Linked DNA regions of Homo sapiens: region 2 is linked to region 1. The links come from fine-mapping of genetic effects on gene expression. A gene starts in region 1. The other region holds a variant in brackets. All regions are shown on one strand. Distances are from middle to middle. Region 1 holds the start of LINC03057 (long intergenic non-protein coding RNA 3057). Region 2 overlaps LINC02086 (long intergenic non-protein coding RNA 2086).

Region 1 (4,393 bases):
AATTCTCCTCCCAGCGAGCCAAAGGCTATATGTTTGGGGTGGAGGAGGCTTCATCCCTTCTGGACTGGAGAAATGGGGACTTGGAGCCAAGTGCGCCAGACTTTAGGGAAAGAGAGGAGCTCCAGCTCCAAAAGGGATTTGGAGGGAAGATCCTATCAGGAAAGGCCCCCCAGACTTGCTTCCTCAAAGGGTTAGGGAAGTGCACTGAGAAAAGAGAACTTTCACTTAACTCTTCTCCATTAGGCATCTTTGTGCTTCCATTTGTACTGGAAAGCACAGTCCTGGGCAGTCAGTTGCACATTCCGCCTCTGGTATGTGGACTATGTGAAATATACCATGCAATGTTCTACTTTGCGAGGGGGGAGGCATATAGATGAAAATATGAATTTCCCTTCTACTGCCTTTATTATTGAGCACAGTTGGGAGCACATAATTTCACATCTCTTTCGCATGTCTGTATAAATCCTCAATCTTTAAACGGTGCTTGACTACTCCGAGAGGCACAGTTGCTGTCATATAAGATTCCTAGCCGACTCCGGCGAGTTACTAATTCCTCTCAGACTCCACAATACCCACGATGCACGATGCACACCCCTTTATGCTTGCTTTTCTTTACATGCCTTTTCAAAGGCGAATAATTTTTGTATTGACCCATGAGTCAGTCCATACAGTTTGAAATCCTTTGGATGCCCTCTGCCCACTCCCATAAACAACAGGTCCCTCCACAAAAATGCACATGCCCCGTTTTTGTGAGTGTGGGTTTCAAATAAGATGGCGTCTCCTGGCATTCCTTAGATTCAGATACACGCTCTCTCAGGCAGGAGGCTGCTCACAGTCCAGAGGGGAAGAAAACCTATGAGGCCCCCAAAAGCCAAAGCAAGAGACTCCCCCAAGTATTCTGCCCCCTCCACGCCAGGAGGCAGCTAGAGAGACAGCGCGCGGGAGAGCTGATTCTGCACCTTGGGGAGCTGGGGGCTTCTGTCTAGACCAAGAGTTCCAGGCCAATTCCTAATTTCCGTTAGGAAAAGTGGCCCTTCTTCCATCCCAAGCGATTCCTCACCCCCAAGGCTGCTCAGGGCGTCTGGCCCTTGCCTCTCTCACGGCATCCGCCTGGAATCCGGGGTTGTGAGCAGGAGGCCCAGGACGCAGGGCCTCAGGCTGGGCGGGGCACTGAGCACTCGGCTCTGGGGAGCCAGGGTTTCCGGTAGAACGAGGGGAGGCGACCCCCTTTCCCCACACACACACCTGTTGGAGAGGTAGGGTCGGGTGCCAGCGGACAGGGAGGCCAAGGCGTTTTCGGGTGCGCCCCGAGGCCCTACCCGGGAAGCTGCCTCGGTCTGGAGATCAAGGTTAAGCCGGTGGCCCCGGGAAGCCCACGCCTGCCACGGGCGGTTGGTCCTGAAAGCTCGGGCCACGGGGCTGCCCAGCTTGGAGAGGGGCCTTTCACGCCGCAGTCCCCAGCTGCGAGAGGAAGGGCTGCGCCCGCCTCCTCACCTACCTCTCGGAACCACGCCGTCCCCCGCGCGTCTTCGTAGACTGCAGGAGTCCAGGGCGTCTGGGGACTGTGACGGCGCCCAAGGCGGGGGATGTGGCGGCTCTGGGTCGCCGCCTTCTGCCCCCGCCTCTGTGAGGCCTCTCGAGGCAGTGTCTGTGTCTGGGGCAGCGACGCCGACGGCGCTGGGGGCGCGAAGGGGCTCACGCTCCTGCGTTCCCCTGGCGCCGGTGAGTGGCGGGCGAGGACAGGGTCCGGGAGGGGGATAGGCGAGAGCGCTTCCTGCCTCCGCCCGGGCGGGGCTCGGCCGTCTCACCTGCCCCCACCCACGGCGCCGTCGGATCCCAGAGCGGCTGGTGAGGAGATGGGCCTGGCGCGCCGCGGGGAGGCCAGAGGCGCGGAGGAGCAGCGCCCAGATGGCCGGAGAGAGCAGAGAGAGAGAGAAGAGAGAGAGAAGAGAGAGAGAGAGAGAAGAGAGAGAGAGGGAGAGAGGCAGAGAGGGAGAGAGGGAGGGAGAGAGGGAGGGAGGGAGGGAGGGAGAGAGAGAGAGAGAGAGAGAGAGAGAGAGAGAATATGAGAATATGAGAATATAAAAGGCAAGAGAGAAGCAGATCCAAGGGCGCGCCCAGAGAAACATCAAATGCACAAATAGACAAAAGAGGTAGAGGAGAAAGCTGAGTCCCAGGGGCTGAAAGAAGCCATGGGCGTCTGAAGCGAGCGACAAGTTATCCTTGGGAGTTGGAAATGTGAGAGGGAGGGGCGAGGCCGAAGGAGGCTGAGAAGGGGAGGGGGCGCTCACACCCTGGGCGGGAGGCGACTGATCCACACTTAGGGCTCCGAATCCGGAGAAAGAGAGCGCCGGACCCTCCTCCGCCCACCTCCCGCCCCAGCCGCAGCCCAGCGACTTCCCGCCATCCTCGGCCACCGAGCGGCTCCTGCCTGGGGTTGTTCGACCGGGATGGCTGCACCAGGCTGAAGGTTGTCCCTCTACCTGCCTCCTTTCTTCTGTTCCCTGTGCCTTACATGGGTTCCTCCCTATTCTATGAACCCAGAGGGAACGACCTTGGCCAAGGTTAGAGAAGGAGCTTGAAAGTTTCACTTTCCATCTTAGCCCTCAGGACGCCTTTGCGTTTTGGCCCTTCGTTAGCGTGCTATCCTGGAATTGCAGGCTCTTCTCTTTATTTCTGAGACCCAAATAGAGGTTTAACCTCCTTAAAATCAGTGAAACTACGACAAACAGTGGCATTCCTGGCTGTCTGGTCTCTAAGGAGTGCCCCCCCTCCCTGACCTCAGCCCTGAGACCCTGCTTCCTCCTCAACCTGCATGGGACTGGGGACACCCCCTCACAATCCAGTCCCTTCCTGCAGGTGGTTGTCCAGGGGGCATGTAGAGGTGTGCCTGAGCTCTGTGTCCTAAGCCTGGCTCTGCCACTGACTTCAGCCCCCACCCCTTCTCCTTTTAGGCCTCAGTTTTTCCTCTGTAAAATGGGCAGAGTGATTTTACAAGTGATTTTACCAAGTGAGAACTGTTGAAATATCTTACTATAATTGTGGATTTGTCCATTTCTCCTTTCAATTCTATCATTTTCGGTGCTTCATATATTTTTGAAGCTCTGTTATTAGGTGTGTACATTTAAGGTTGATGTGTCTTCCTAGGTGTGTACCACATTTAGATTTAGGATTGATGTGTCTTCTTTTTTGAGATGAAGTCTTGATCTGTCACCCAGGCTGGAGTGCAATGGTGCAATCTCGGCTCACTGCAACCTCCGCCTCTTGAGTTCAAGCGATTCTCCCACTTCAGCCTCCCGAGTAGCTGGGACCACAGGTGTGTGCCACCACGCCCAGCTAATTTGTGTAGTTTTAGTAGAGACGGGTTTTCACCATGTTGGCCAGGCTGGTCTCGGCTCCTGACGTCAGGTGATCCGCTTGCCTCAGCCTCCCAAAGTGCTGGGATTAGAGGTGTGAGCCACGGCTCCTAGCCATGATATGTCTTCTTATGCTTTGCTTCTGCAGCCTCCTCTCATTTGCAGGTTCTGTTGAGCTTGAACCGCTGAGAGAAAAATGCATCCAAATGGGAATTTTATTCTATATCCACGTAAACATGAATATAGAAATATGACAAAACTAAATTTTGCTTCCAAAATGTTTTTGTTTTGTTTTGTTTTTGTTTTTTTGTTTGTTTGTTTTTTCTGAGACAGAGTTTCGCTCTTGTTGCCCAGGCTGGAGTGCAATGGCACAATCCCAGCTCACCGCAACCTCTGCCTCCCGGGTTCTCCTGCCTCAGCCTCCCTAGTAGCTGGGATTACAGGCATGTGCCACCATGCGCAGCTAATTTTTTGTATTTTTAATAGAGACGGGGTTTCTCCATGTTGGTCAGGCTGGTCTCGAACTCCCGACCTCAGGTGATCCGCCCGCCTCAGCCTCCCAAAGTGCTGAGATTACAGGCATGAGCCACTGCACCCGGCCAACGCCCAGCTAATTTTGTATTTTTAGTAGAGATGGGGTTTCTCCAGTTCGTCAGGCTGGTCTCGAACTCCCTACCTCAGGTCATCCGCCCGCCTCAGCCTCCCAAAGTGCTGGGATTACAGGCGTGAGCCACCATGCCCGGCCCCAGAATTTTTTCTATTTGGGTCTATTTTTCTACTTTTTCTTCACTTTTTGTTGATATATAGTATTATAGAACCTAATATTAAACCTCTGGCTCAATATATTTTTGCATAGATCCCATCTGTGTAACCACCACCTAGATCAAGATGTTTCCGGCTTACCAGAAGGCCCCATTGTAACTCCTACCAATCAATAGCTCTCTGGTCAATCCCTCCATACCCCCTAACAATTATTTGGCTTTCTATCACCATAGATTAGTTTTGTCTAATCCTTCAACTTCATATAAACATAAGTA
Region 2 (4,393 bases), 39 kb after region 1:
AGAGGGAAGAGACTGTGGGAAAATACGTGCCTGGTGCCTAAAAGTTCAGACCCAAAGCAGCCCTCATGACTTCTGCTCATATTCTCTTGCTGAGAGCTTAGCCACATGGCTACACTTAGTTGAAAGAAAGGCTAGAAATGTGTCATCAATTGAACAGCAATGACTATATTACAACTCTATTATAGTTCCATAACTCCTTATCTCCAAGTTCTGAAATCTCAAAAGCTGTGAAAATTGGAAAGGTGTGTGTGTGTGTGTGTGTGTGTGTGTGTGTGTGTGTGTTGTTGTTGTTGTTGTTGTTGTTGAGACAGGGTCTTTCTCTGTCACCCAGGCTGGAGTGCAGTGGCATGATCACGGCTCACTGCAGCCTCAACCTCCCAAGCTCAAGGGATTCTCCCACCTCGGACTCCCAAGCAGCTAGGGCTACAGGTGTGTGCCATTGTGCCCAGCTAATTTTCTTACTTTTATAGAGACTGGGGTCTTGCTATATGGTCCAGGCTGGACTTGAACTCCCAGGCTCAAGCGATTGTCCTGCTTTGGCCTCCCAAAATGTTAGAATTACAGGCATGAGGCCGGCCAAAAGTTTTTTCTTAAGTTTGGCACAGACTCAAGTGGTGGCAAAATCTGACTTGAAATGACATGAGGAATTTATAGAGACATCTATAGACTATTTATAGTCTTTATTTCATTCACTTAGAATGAATATTAATGTATTTTGTTGCAAAAGTGCCAACATATTTGCTCAAGCTCTCCCCAGACCCCACTGGGGGAATGAATAATATGCAGTGTGTGCAGCATATCTCTCTGAAAACTGAACACTTCTAAATTTCAGGGCTCATCTTAGACCCACGCAAGAGGACCCCACATTTTGGAGGGCCTTACTTTGCCCTTCTTCTAGATAGCCCTTGCTGATTAGGTAGGCCTGTGAGGCAAAATGAAGGGCCTCTCACCACCTGAGCACCGCCCCCCCAACTCTAGATCATGTCCCAGGTACCTGGGCCACTGGAGTTTGCTGCCCAAGTGGTCCAAAGTCTGTGCAGATCTCTTTAATTGGTCTACCCTCTGGATGGGTGGGGGGTGGGGGTTACCGCTGTCATATGCACTCTTAAGGCCAAGACATAACCAAAGAGCAGCTGTTTGCAGCAGGTATGGATAGAGGCTGGTTGTGCAAACTAAAATGTCCACACATGTGCCCGTGAGACCACTCAAGGTAAGGATAGAATTGAGTGTGCAAAGAGAAAGGGGATAGATATAGTTATCCAAAATTGTAAATTTGACCCTGGCTATATCTATCAACATAGGACAGAACACAGCTCTTATTTATTTATTTGTTTGTTTGTTTAGTTTCAAAGAGATGGGGGTCTCACTATGGTGCCCAGGCTGTTCTTGAACTCCTGGGCTCAAGTGATCATCCCGTCTCAGCCCCTCAAAGTGCTCAGATTATAGGCATGAGCCACCATGCGCAACTCAGAAGACAGTTCTTATTTAGTAGCTTGTTAACTTGATTTACATATCGTAAATATATTAGGCATGGATATGTGGGCCTCCAGGCCTGCATGTTCGAGTGAGTCTGTACGTCAGCCCCAGATATTTTATTTTATTTTATTTTATTTTATTTTTGAGATGGAGTCTCTCTCTGTCGCCCAGGCAGGAGTGCAATGGCGCGATCTCGGCTCACTGCAACCTCTGCCTCCTGGGTTCAAGCAATTCTCCTGCCTCAGCCTCCTGGGTAGCTGGAATTACAGGTGCTCGTCAACACGCCCGGCTAATTTTTGTATTTTTAGTAGAGATGGGGTTTCACCATGTTGGTCAGGCTGGTCTCGAACTCCTGACCTCAGGTGATCCACCTGCCTTGGCCTCCCAAAGTGCTGGGATTATAGGCATGAGCCACCGCACCTGGCTGAGCCCCAGAGATTTTAGAGAGGGATTGTGTACTCGTGCTATGGGAGAACAGGAGAATGGACTCTACAGCTTGGTTCCTGGCACTTAGTAGGTACTTGATAAAGGACTGTTGAACTGAAATAGGAACAACAACTAGCTCACAGGATTCCTGGGACGATCACAGATAGCATATGTGAAAGCCTGACTTGAATTATGAAGGGGTCCCCGAATGTGGAGGAGGAGGAAGAGGATGGACGGAGTGGAGAAGTTCAGGGAGACCCGAGAGTAGATGCAGAGTAGATGATTGAACAACAGAATATGCCAAATGGTATTTGACAAATGATTGAGGAATGTTAGCAGTTGCATTAGTTATGAATCTTGTTGAAACACCAGAAACCAACTCAAGATAGCTTAAACAAGTTGGGGGCAGAGGGGAGGATGAAGAGAGGTGGGTTAAAGGGTACAAACATACAGTTAGATAGAAGGCATAAATT[CA/C]ATGTTTGATAGCAGAGTAAGGTGACTACCGTTAATAAAAATGTATTGTATTGGGAGGATGGACACCCTAAAAACCCTGACTTCTTTGTTATGTATTATATACATGTAATAAAATTTCACATGTACCCCATGGATCGTATGAAAAACAAGATAGCTTAGCCAGGCGTCGTGGCTCACGCCTGTAATCCCAGCACTGTGGGAGGCTGAGGCGGGCAGATGGCTTGAACCCAGGAGTTCAAGAACAGCCTGGGCAACATGGAGAAGCCCCGTCTCTACAAATACAAAAAAATTAGCTGGGCCTGACAGCGTGCACATGTAGTTTCAGCTTGGTAGGCTGAGGTGGGAGGATCACTTGAGCACAGGAAGTCGAGACTGCAGTGAGCTATGATTGCACCACTGCACTCCAGCCTGGGTGACAGAGTGAGACCCTGTCTCAAAAATATATATATATACAGTCCCAACCTGTAGTCCCACCTCCTGGCGGAGGCTGAGCCCAGGAGTTCAAGGCTGCAGTGAGCCATATGTGTGTGTGTGTGTGTGTGTGTGTGTGTGTGTGTGTGTACGTAATAATACATATATGTGTGTGTATTCACACATACATATGTACATATACACATTTATATATATACATTTATATTTAGATATATTATATAAATATTATAGATATATATACACACACGGCTCACTGTAGCCTTGAAATTCATATCTATATGAATTTATATATATATACACATTTATATATACACATTTATATATTATATGTTATATATAAATACACATTTTTATATATATACACATTTATATATATATACACTCACATGGCTCACTGCAGCCTTGAAATTCATATATATATGAATTTATATATATACGCATTTATACATATGCACATTTATATATTATATATACACATTTATATATATACATATTTATATATATATATATATATACACACACACACACACACACACACACACACACACACACACACACACAGCTCACTGCAGCCTTGAACTCCTGGGCTCAGCCTCCCCCAGGAGCTGGGACTACAGGCTGGGACTGTATATATATATATTTTTGAGACAGGGTCTCACACATACATATATACACATATGTATATATACACACACACACATATATACATACATATATATAGCTAGAACAAAAAAGGGGAATTGATGAAAAGAAAATAGAACGCATTCAATCCAGATCTCCTCTCATGGAACAAGTTGTCATCGACTTCTCATCTCTGCTTCTTTTTTCTTCAGGTCTGATGCATTTTTCTGTCTCTGCAGACCAGCTCCTCCCCCCTCCAAATCTCAATGGAAGAATGCGACATTCTGGATTCAGCTACCCAAAGAGGGGTTTTTTCCCCCTCTTTGTCTCTATTATACATTTTATAGGAAGGAATTCTGTCCCAGTTAATTCAAACTGGGACCAGAGGAACAGGGTCCCGCTGCTCAAAATGGCTGTCACCCGTGGGTAAGGGGAGCAGTCAGAGAGTCATTGTGACTGGGGTGGCAGTCCCACTCCAATCTGCCTTGTGGCTTCCTAGCCTGCAACATACATCCTCCCAGACATACAAAATGTGCCTCTGCCTGAGTCTTCCTGGCAGGGAGTTTGGTACCCCCCAACATTGGGAGGGGAGCTTACAACACAGGACTATCTCTTCCCATAGATAATCTCCTCACAAAGCTCCACTCAGGACCACTTATATTCTTGAGGTAAGGGAGGAGGTTCAAATGTCATGTAACAGTTTTTTGTTTGTTTGTTTGTTTTGAGGGAGGGTCTCGCTTTGTCACCCAACCTAGAGTGCAGTGGCGCGATCATGACTCACTGCAGCCTCAAATTCCTGAGTTCAGCCTCCCCAGTAGCTAGGACTACAGGTGCTTGCCACCACGCCCAGCTGATTTTTTTTTTTGGGAGAGACAAAGTCTCTCGATGTTGACTAGGCTGGTTTTGAACTCCTGGACTCAAGCAATCCTCCTGCCTTGGCCTCCCAAAGTGTTGGGATTACAGG

Evidence for each region. PIP is the estimated chance that this variant, and not a neighbour inherited with it, causes the effect.
Region 2: its variant is the best candidate, but not a certain one, in a credible set for the expression of LINC03057 in whole blood (INTERVAL, PIP 0.64).

The regions. Positions count from the first base shown.
Region 1 is chr17:48,645,107-48,649,499 of GRCh38, forward strand. It overlaps LINC03057 (long intergenic non-protein coding RNA 3057), which reads right to left and starts at 1,746. Exons shown (of 2, transcript NR_186590.1): 1 at 1,499-1,746. It overlaps LINC02086 (long intergenic non-protein coding RNA 2086), which reads left to right. Exons shown (of 8, transcript NR_189645.1): 1 at 1-1,256. RefSeq lists enhancers at 1,283-1,951, 1,390-1,439, 2,330-2,539 and a silencer at 1,660-1,839.
Region 2 is chr17:48,683,856-48,688,248 of GRCh38, forward strand. LINC02086 (long intergenic non-protein coding RNA 2086) reads left to right here. Exons shown (of 8, transcript NR_189645.1): 5 at 4,052-4,097. Among named protein-coding and RNA genes, the nearest start is that of PRAC1, 36 kb to the right of the region's middle. The variant CA/C (reference allele first, on the strand shown) is at 2,376.